Homo sapiens: one gene and its partner. The protein of the gene in region 1 interacts with the protein of each later gene in a pairwise test. Each region holds a gene or a part of one and is shown on either strand. Other genes may lie near its edges.

Region 1 (5,478 bases):
CATATAAACAATATTAAACATAATGTTCAAACATGTTTGATATTTAAACATCTACCTTGCTTGATAGTTTAGCTTTTAGAACCATCCAAATGTTTTACATAATTATGAAACAATTACATTTTAAAAAGGGAAAATAAAGTGATCTTCAAAAAATGAAAACAAGTGAGCCTAACTCTACGTCCAGTTGGTGTCATAACCACACAGAAGTATATATTCTACCTTTTCTGTAAGGTTTTATGTTTTAGGGTAATAGAACAATAAGCAAAATTTTCCTTTGAGAATAATCACAGTTTCTGAAAGCAGGTAGAGCTAGCACATCATCATTATTGAAATAGTTGATCTAGGCAGTGATCATCAGTGGCAGGTAAAACCATTGGGTAGAGGTTTGATGGGGGAACTTTATAATAATGGATAAATCAGTTCAGTGCTACAAATCTACCATTCAGTCTTAACATCACAGAAAATGGTTCAGGCAGACATAATGTGCCTCCTAATAAATGGCAATAACAAGTACACAAGAATACTTAACGAATTATTCTTGCAACAATGACAAAACAACCTAGAAAAAGTAAAGCCTCTAGAAATAATTACCAGTTTATAGGAGATAGGGGGGATAGAGGAACACCATGAAAATATACACTAGCCAAATTCACGATGTGGGAAATGCTACAGGACAAGTGAAGCCAGCTTCTTAAATAAATGACATAGAGTGGGGAAAGAGAACAGTGTCAGAGACTTAAAACATGTTAGCTTAAGTGCAATATATCGACTTAGTTTGGATCCCAGTTCACACCAACTGTAAGAATGTTTAAAAAAATACACTTAGCAAAAATTGAATATTAGCATTAGATGAAATAAGTGTTGCAGGAGTTCTTAATAAAGGAACACCTTTTCAAAATGAGCTTTTGAAAATATACTGATAATTTAATTTTAGTATAATTGACTTGTTTGCAATCTTATATATTTTTATGCATCAGAAACATTGTGAGTAGAGGTTCTATGTTTCACCACACTGCCATTAGGCAGGAGGAGGGGAGGTCCATGGCTTAACCCATTTGTGCCTAGTGTTCCATTATTGGAACGCTAAGCTTGTGAGAGTTATTTATATCATGCTCAAGGTCGTCACCAAGGTCTGATTTTTCACACAAGAAATTGCAACCTCCGGCATATATGGGTTAAAAAAGGGAAAAGGTCAGGAGCCCTTGATTTGTTCATTTTTGAGGGGTATGGGTTTTTAATCTGTTAGTGCTTAATGAAATCATGGGATTCCAGTTCCCCCACCAAAAATTAGGGGGATAGCTGAACCACAAGGCATAATATTGATAAAATTGGGTGATAGGTATAGGATTCATTATACTATTCTCTTCTGTAAATGTTGAAAAGTGCCATAATTATAAAACTTAAAAGCATTATATAAATTTTTAGTTATTATACCAGTAATGTAGTAGAATGCTATTTTTGTACATTCTGGGGAGGACTAGATAATATTGGTAATACTTTTGTCACCCTGATAGGTAAAGTGTGGTATTTCAGTTTAGTTTTCATTTCTTTAATTATAAAGATATTCAGGATCTTTTGAATACTTTTTGACTATTTGTGTTTTCTCTTTCAGTTTTTATTTTAATTAAACTTTTTATTTTGAGATCATTATAGATCCACATGCAATTCTGAGAAACTTTAGAACTTATTGCGAGATCCAGTGTATGCTTTCCTCCAGTGGCAATACATCTGGCAGAAGTATAGTACAATATCACAATAATATTACAAAATTTCTTCATATTGCCCTTTTATAGTCATACTTACTTCCCTCCTGTTCCTGCTGCCCCGTTAACCCTGGCAACTACTAATCTGTTTCTAATTTCCATATTTTGTCATTTTGAGAGTGTTATATAAATGGAGTCATATAGTTAACCTTTGAGATTGGCTTTTTTCACTGAGCAGTTATAATTCCCTGGAGATTCATCCAGGTCGTTTTGTGCATCAATTGTTCTTTTTGGTATGAACGTACCAGTTTGTTTAATTATTTGCCTGTTGAAGGACATCTGGGTGGTTTCCGGTTTTTGACTGTTAGAAATAAAGTTGCTGTTAACATTCATGTAAAATGTGAACATAAATTTTCATTTCTCTGGGATAAATACCCAGGGGTGCAGTTGCTAGCTTGTATGGTAGTTGCATGTTTAGTTTTATGAGAAACTGTCAGACAATTTTGCGGAGTATCTGTACCATTTTACATTCTCATCAGCAGTATACGTGTGATCCAATTTCAACTTACCCTTGTCAGCATTTGGTATTACCACTCTTAGCCATTCTGACAAGCGTATGTAGTGACATCTCAGTGTGGTTTTAATTTGCATTTCTTTAATAGCTAATGATGAATACCTTTTCATCTGCTTATTTGCCATCTGTAAATCTTCAGTGAATGCCTCTTCATGTTTTTTTGCTCATTTTCTAGTTGGATTTGTTTTTCTAATGTTTCTTTAACTTTTCTAACTGCTTAAGATAGATACTCAGTTCATTAATTTATTTTTAGCTCTTTTTAAAATTTTATTTTAAATTTTATTATTATTATTATTATTATTTTTTGATACAGAGTCTCGCTCTGCGGCCCAGGCTGGAGTGCAGTGGCGCGATCTCGGCTCACTGCAAGCCCCGCCTCCCGGGTTCAAGCCATTCTCCTGCCTCAGCGTCCCAAGTAGCTGGGACTACAGGCACCCGCCACCACGCCTGTCTAATTTTTTTGTATTTTTAGTAGAGACAGGGTTTTACCGTGTTAGCCAGGATGGTCTCGATCTCCTGAACTTGTGATTCACCCGCCTCAGCCTCCTGAAGTGCTGGGATTACAGGCATGAGCCACCGCGCCCGGCCACTCTTTTTGTTTTTTAATGTTACTATTTAAAACTAAAAATCTGTCTATATACACTCCTCTTGCTACATCCCACAGAGTTCGATGTATAGTTTTTAAAATTATTTACTTCTAAGTATTTTCAAAATTCAATATGATTTCTTCTTAGATTCATTAGTTTTTAGAAGTTTCCAAACGTGGTATTTCAAAAGTTATCTTTTTGTTATGGTTGTTGGAGAATATGGTTGTAGGATATCAGTTACGTGAACATTGAGACATTCTTTATGGCCTGGCATTTGATTGCTTTTTGTATGTGTTTCATTTGTTTTCTATTTGGAAGCAATATTCTGTATATGTCTATTAAATCAGACTTGCTGGTTGTGATATGAGTTCTTCTCTAGCCTTAATAATGTTTGTATTTATTTATTTATTTTTTTGAGACCAAGTCTGGCTGTGTCACCCAGGCCTGGAGTGCAGTGGCACGATCTTGGCTAACTGCAACCTCCGCCTCCCAGGTTCAAGGGATTCTCCTGCCTCAGCCTCCTGAGTAGCTGGGATTCCAAGTGTGCGCCACCATACCTAGCTAATTTTTGTATTTTTAGTAGAGATGGGGTTTCACCATGTTGGCCAGGCTGGTCTTGCATTCCTGACCTCAGGTGATCCACCAGCCTCGGCCTCCCGAAGTGCTGGGATTACAGGTGTGTGCCACCAGGCCTGGCCGTTTTTATTTCTTTGTTTTGTTACTCTGATAATATGTTAAAAATTGTCCTCTGTGGTAATGGGTTTGTCAAGATCTCCTTGTGGTTCTGTCAACATATTTTGAAACTATCTTGTTACTAGGTACATAGAAGTTTAGATATTGTAATTGAGTAGAACATTTTTCATTGGGTAGTGAACTTTATTGCTAGTAATGGTTTTTGCCCTTTAAGTTTTGTTTGATACTAATAGAGCAACACCAGTCTCTTTATTGATTGGTTGATTGATTGATTGAGACAGATTCTCCCTCTGTCGCCAGGCTGGAGTGCAGTGGTGCGATATCGGCTCACTGCAACCTTCGCCTCCCAGGTTCAAGCTATTCCCATGCCTCAGCCTCCTGAGTAGCTGGGACTACGGGTGTGCACCATCACGCCCAGCTAATTTTTGTATTTTAGTACAGATGGGGTTTCACCATGTTGGCCAAGCTGGTCTCGAACTCAACCTCAAGTGATCTGCCTGCCTTGGCCTCCCAAAGTGCTGGGATTACAGGCATGAGCCACTGCGCACGGCCATACAGTCACAGTCTCTTTAAATTACTATTTGCCTCATGTATTTTTTTCCATATTTTTTACTTTTCATCTTTATGTCTTTAGATTTTTAGGTGTGTCTCTTTTGAAAAGCATGTGAACTAATACTACCTCAACCTTACATAAAAATATTTTCCATGTGTTTACAGTGCTGAAGCTGCTGAAAGATGGCAGAAGAAGTGGTGGTAGTAGCCAAATTTGATTATGTGGCCCAACAAGAACAAGAGTTGGACATCAAGAAGAATGAGAGATTATGGCTTCTGGATGATTCTAAGTCCTGGTGGCGAGTTCGAAATTCCATGAATAAAACAGGTTTTGTGCCTTCTAACTATGTGGAAAGGAAAAACAGTGCTCGGAAAGCATCTATTGTGAAAAACCTAAAGGATACCTTAGGTAAGATATTTTTTAAAAGAAAAGCAACTTTGTTTTAAATGAAACCTGCAACTTAGTTCTTTGTACATAATTCTGGCAGCAGTGTGCATAATTGACTTGAAAAGGCAAGGGCTAGGTAAGTTTGAGTCATAGCAGGTGGTCAACCCAGAAGACCAGTGAAGGTCATAAGTGTTAACATGCAGTTTCTGTAAATCTAGGCCCATGCTCCAAGTCAAGGCAGAGTGATACCAATGAGTAGAACTAACTCTCACCTTCTAGCAGGGGCTTTTTGAACCATGAATCACTGTTGGAGTTTAGACTTATAGGCAGAATTGCCTCTTTGGCACCAAGGCAACTTATGTACATGGCACATAATGAATTTTAACATCTAATGACCTTATGTTTTGAACTTCACTTAAAACCCTCCATTTTGTTTTTCTATTTGATAAGAGAACTGTGGATCATTACTGTACATTAGCACCTACAGAGCTCTTTTCTATTTTGTTTCTCTTTTTCCCTTTATTTCTCCAAAGTTTTTGTTTTTTATTTTTACTGGCCCTCCATTAGGGCCTGAGACAGTGGAGCCCACTTCACACTGGACTTGGCTAAGCTGATAGGAAGGAAATATGCATGGGCAAGGAATGGCCTCTTCTTTAAAAAAAAAAAAAAAAAAAAAAAATTAAACTCTCCTTAGCTGACAGGAAGGAATTGGGAGGGACAGAATTTCATTTTTGGTGTTCAGGCAAACATGCTATTTGCGTAATTGTTCTTTGTCTAGGTGTAGAAGAAAAGTACAATTTCTCCTTGTGCAGACAGTTTGGGAGCAATATAGCATGACTGACAAATATGAAATACTGTTGACTCACTACTTTACATTAGTTTTTATTTATTTATTTTTTATGGTTTTGTAGAGATGGAGTCTTGCTCTGTTGTCCAGGCCAAACTTGAACTCCTGGGCTCAAGCAACCCTCCCACCTCAGC
Region 2 (4,488 bases), on another chromosome or scaffold:
GAAGCCTGGCTGTCGGGGGCCTGAGGGCCGAGGCCAGCTCCTTTGGCGACGGGGGTGGCTGGGGCTGGGTCTTGGGCGGGAGGCGGGGCGCTGACTATGACCGAGGCAGGCACGGAGAGGTGGGGGCCCTCTGCGGAGAGGGGCTGCTGGCTCCTCTCCTGCAACGGGCAGCCCGCACAGGATCAGAAAGCCGCCCCCACAGGCCCTCGACCTCCCCACCCGAGACCCCTGCCCCTATTGACGCTCCCAGGGTTCCAGAGAATGGGGTAGTGGGCAGCCTGGCAGGCAGGGTGCCAGGCACAGAGGCCGAAACCCAGGCAGCCTGCTCCATTCTGAGCTCCCATTGGCCCCTCTGCCAGCTCCACGTTGCCCTGCCTCTCTCCTGCCCCACCTGCCTGTCCCTCTGTCCCTGTCTCGTCCACTTTCTCTCTGAGATTCCTCTCCTTGTCTGTCAGCAGGCCAGCCAGTGCCTGCCCTTCTCTGTCCGTCGGGTAGTCCCTCTCCCTGCCGGTCCCTCTCCTCTCCATCTGTCAGCAGCCCAGCCAGTGCCTACCCTTCTGTCTGTTCACTGGTCCCTCTCTTTGTCTGTCTGTCTGCCAGTCCCTCTCACTGCCTAACAGTTGTCCTGCCCCTTGTCTATCAGTCAGCCAACCTGCCAATCCATCTTCCTGCCAGTTCAGCCAGGGCCCTCACCCTTCGGGCCTCCTCTTAGGGGCCACCTGTGCCATGACTGAGACCTTCCCCCCCCAGCTGCCACAGTGGCATCCACTTTTGGATCTTGGCGCCTCGCCCCAGGACCCCTCTTCCTCCCAAACCCGCCTCCTCCGGTACCTGCTCCCTTGCCCCGCCCTGCTTACCTGGGGCAGGAACATCTGCAGGGAGTCCTGAGTGAGGATGGCCGTGGGGGTGGCAGAGGGCGGCTGCCCCAGGACGATCTTCTCCGGGCTAGACGCCAGGCCAGGGCTGGGCTGGGGGGTGGTGGCCTGAGGCGGGGCGGCGGCCTGTGGGGTGGGGGCCTGCGGGGGCTGCTGCGCCTGCGGCTGCTGGAGGCCCAGGGGCAGGGGTGTGCTGACCGCGGGGGGCGCCTGGGGGGCAGGCTGCACCGTGAGGACAGGCGCGGCCTCCCCGGTGGCAGCGGCAGGGGTGGCCGGCTGCACCAGGCCGTCGGGGGTGTTGAGCATGGCCACGGCGCTGGGGGGCAGGGTGACCCCCTGGAGGACAGTGGTGGCGGCCGGCCCGGCGGGCGCTGGCTGGCTCTGCGTGGGCAGGCTGCCCGCCGCCAGCGACACGGGCATCTGGAAGAGCGCAGGCTGGCCCACCTGGATGGGAGCGGCGGAGAGGATGTGCGCGCTGTGGGCCCCGGAGTGGGGGGCCAACACGGGGCCCAGGCTCAGTGGGCCCGCCAGGTTCTGGTTTGTGAGGATGGGGTTCGCGATGAGCTGTCCACCTGTGTGGGGGGCAGCGGCCGCCAGGATCTGCCCGCCCACGTTGGCCGGCAGGGCTGAGAGCTGCTGCGGGAGCTGGACCGCCGGGGCGCCAGGCAGTAGGAACTGGTTCTGGCCCGGCAGCATGTGCTGGGCGGGGATGACGATGCTGCTGCCTTGGTTCAGGAGGTGGACGCTCATGGGTTTGCTCAGGGCCCCGGGGGGCTGCGGCGGGGCCGCTCCGGTGGTGGTGGCCGGTGGCTGCTTGAAGACGTTCGCTTGCAGCGCAGGCGCGGGGAAGCCCGACAGCACCACGTTCTGGCCCGCCTTCCCCGCCGCCATGAACGTCAGGTTCTGCGGGGCCTTGGGCTGCTGCGGGAGCGCCCCCGGCTCGCCCTGGATGGTGAGCGTGGCGCCCGCGGGCGCAAACGGCTTGGGCGTCAGCTGGTAGAGCTTGGGCGGCAGCACCCCCGCGGGCTTGGGCTGGATGGGCGTGGGTGTGCGATGCAGGATCACGTTGGGCGCCGGGACCAGTGGCGACGAGCCGAGGCCTGGGGCCACCGCCAGCGGCTGTCCCGAGGGCGTCCCGGTGGGAGCCGAGGCGGCCCCCGCGCCTCCGAACACAGAGTTCCCATTGAGCGTGGTGGCCACAGCGGCCGAGAGGTTCTTCTGGATGACCAGGCCAGCCCCCTGTGGCGAGACACCGGCCGACGCCAGCGTCACGGGCTCCGAGGGGCCAGCCGCCGAGGCCAGGTAGCCGCTGACGGGCACCTGCTTGGCCAGGAGCTGGGAGGTGGGCGTGTTGAGCGCCATGACGGGCTGGCCCACCACCTGGATGGGCGCCAGGCCCAGTGTGGCCGCCGTGGCACCCCCAGGGCTGCCATTGGGCAGGCCTTGGAGGCCCGGGATGGGCTGCAGTGTCACATTGCCCAGGCCCACAGGCTGCAGGAAGGGCTGCACACTCAGGGCCTTGTTGACCACGTCCTGGGGCGGCACCAGGGCCTGGTGGGTCAGCACGGTAGGCGGGCCCTGCAGCCCCAGCAGGTCGGTGCTGCCTGGGAAGAGGGCTTGGGGCCCCGCAGCCACGGCCGCTGCCCCTCCAGCGCCCGTCGGGCCTGCCCCGCCATCCGCAGGCTGCAGGGTGGGCAGCTGGAAGGGACCCAGGTCCAGCTCAGCCTCGGCCTCCAGCGTCTGCTCCGTGATGTTGGCCTCTTGGAGGCTCTGCTGGAGGATGTCACAGGGCTGGTCAGCGCCCCCACTGCCCCCGCCGCCGCCCCCTGTCGCAGGAGAGCCCAGGATGTCATCTTCCAGGAAGTCTAGGTCCACACTGGGGGCCGGCTGGTTGGGCTCTGGGTTCAGGTGGTTGCCGGAAGCTTCTTGCACATGGAGCTGCAGGCCGGGAAAGGTGGGAAGGAAAGAGCTGAGGTTAGCAAGGGGCTACGCTTAGGCCACAGCTGCCGCAAAGAATGCTGAGGTGACAGGGCAGCCACGTTCAAGAAAGAACATTCCCTCCTGGCATGGTGGTTCACGCTTGTAATCTCAGCACTTTGGGAGGCTGAGGTAGGAGGATGGATGGCTTGAGCCAAAGAGTTTGAGACCAGCCTGGGCAACGCAGTGAGAAAAAAATTTTAAAAAAGAAAAATTAGTCAGGGGTGGCAGCATGTGCCTGTGGTCTTAGCTACTTGGGAGGCTGAGGTGAGAGGATCACTGGAGCCCAGGAGTTTGAGGCTGCAGAGTGGAGCTACGAGCACTTCACTACACTCCAGCCTCGGTGACAGGGCAAGACTTTGAGAAGAAAAAAAAAAAAAGAAGAAAAAAAGAAAAAAAAAAGAAAAAAGAACATTCCACCTGCAAGTGGCTGGACCCGGGATCAAATCCCAGCTCTGCCAAGGCTTAGCTGTGTAACCTAGGGCGTGCTTGATCTGACCTCAGTTTCTTCATCTGTACCCATCAGTAAAATGTAATAAAAAAAACTACTGTTCAAGGCCACAGTGACTCACGCCTGTAATCTTAGCACTTTGGGAGCCTGAGGTGAGAGGATCTCTTAAGCCCAGGAGTTCCAGGCTACGGTGAGCTATGATTGTGTCACTGTACTCCAGCCTAAGTGACAAGAGTAAGACCCAGCGGGGCACCCTCAGGAAAGCCGCTGGTGGTGGCCCCAGGCCTCAGCTTGTCACCACTGGTCCCGGCGCCCAACGTGATCCTGCATCGCACGCCCATGCCCATCCAGCCCAAGCCCGCGGGGGTGCTGTCCCCCAATCTCTACCAGCTGACGCCCAAAAAACAAAAATAAAGTCTAGGCACGGTGGCTCACACCTGTAATCCCAGCACTTTGGGAGGCAGAGGCAGGTGGATCACTTGAGCCTAGGAGTTTGAGACCTGCCTGACCAACATGGTGAAACACCATCTCTACTAAAAATACGAAAATTAGCCAGGCGTGGTGGCACGTGCCTGCAGTCCCAGCTACTCGGGAGGCTGAGGCAGGAGAATGGCTTGAACCTGGGAGGTGGAGGCTGTAATGAGCTGAGATCCTACCAATGCCCTCCAGCCTGGGTGACAGAGTGAGACTCCATCTCAAAACAAAACAAAACAAAAATAAATAAAAATAAGCAACTATTGTTTAAATAGTGATATAGGCCCACAACACTTATCTGTAATTACAAAACCCAAAAAGCTCTAAGAACTGAGACTGTTTTCATAGCTCTGTTGGCAGCAAAACCTGACCAGAACCAACATGGCACTTTAGGTGGGATCCATTTATCCACATGATGTGACATCCCAAGTTTGGCCGCCGAAAGGCAAGCGTGTGACATGACACACACCACACATATGGCACCACTTTTCCAGAATTGGAGAAATTCGAAATTCTGAAACACACCTGGCCCTAAAGGTTTCTGACAAGCAGTCGTAGTTCTGGTGGAGTAAAGCTCACATCAGCAGTGGCTCCCATTTGTGAACTTCTGTGCCAACCGCACTGTGAGTTCAATGCTTTTTGTTTCTTTGGGTTTTTTTTGAGACGGAGTTTCCACTCTTGTTGCCCAGGCTGGAGTGCAATGGTGTGATC

Evidence for each region.
Region 2: the proteins of NCK1 (region 1) and BICRA interact in binary tests that used the Homo sapiens proteins (3 or more experiments, as listed by UniProt).

What each region holds. Positions count from the first base shown.
Region 1 is NC_000003.12:136,923,710-136,929,187, forward strand, and holds part of NCK1 (SH2/SH3 adapter protein NCK1), read left to right. Parts: intron 1-4,274; 5' UTR 4,275-4,292; coding exon 4,293-4,518; intron 4,519-5,478. UniProt on the Homo sapiens protein: Adapter protein which associates with tyrosine-phosphorylated growth factor receptors, such as KDR and PDGFRB, or their cellular substrates. Maintains low levels of EIF2S1 phosphorylation by promoting its dephosphorylation by PP1.
Region 2 is NC_000019.10:47,677,646-47,682,133, reverse strand, and holds part of BICRA (BRD4-interacting chromatin-remodeling complex-associated protein), read right to left. Parts: intron 2,814-4,488; coding exon 858-2,813; intron 159-857; coding exon 1-158. UniProt on the Homo sapiens protein: Component of SWI/SNF chromatin remodeling subcomplex GBAF that carries out key enzymatic activities, changing chromatin structure by altering DNA-histone contacts within a nucleosome in an ATP-dependent manner.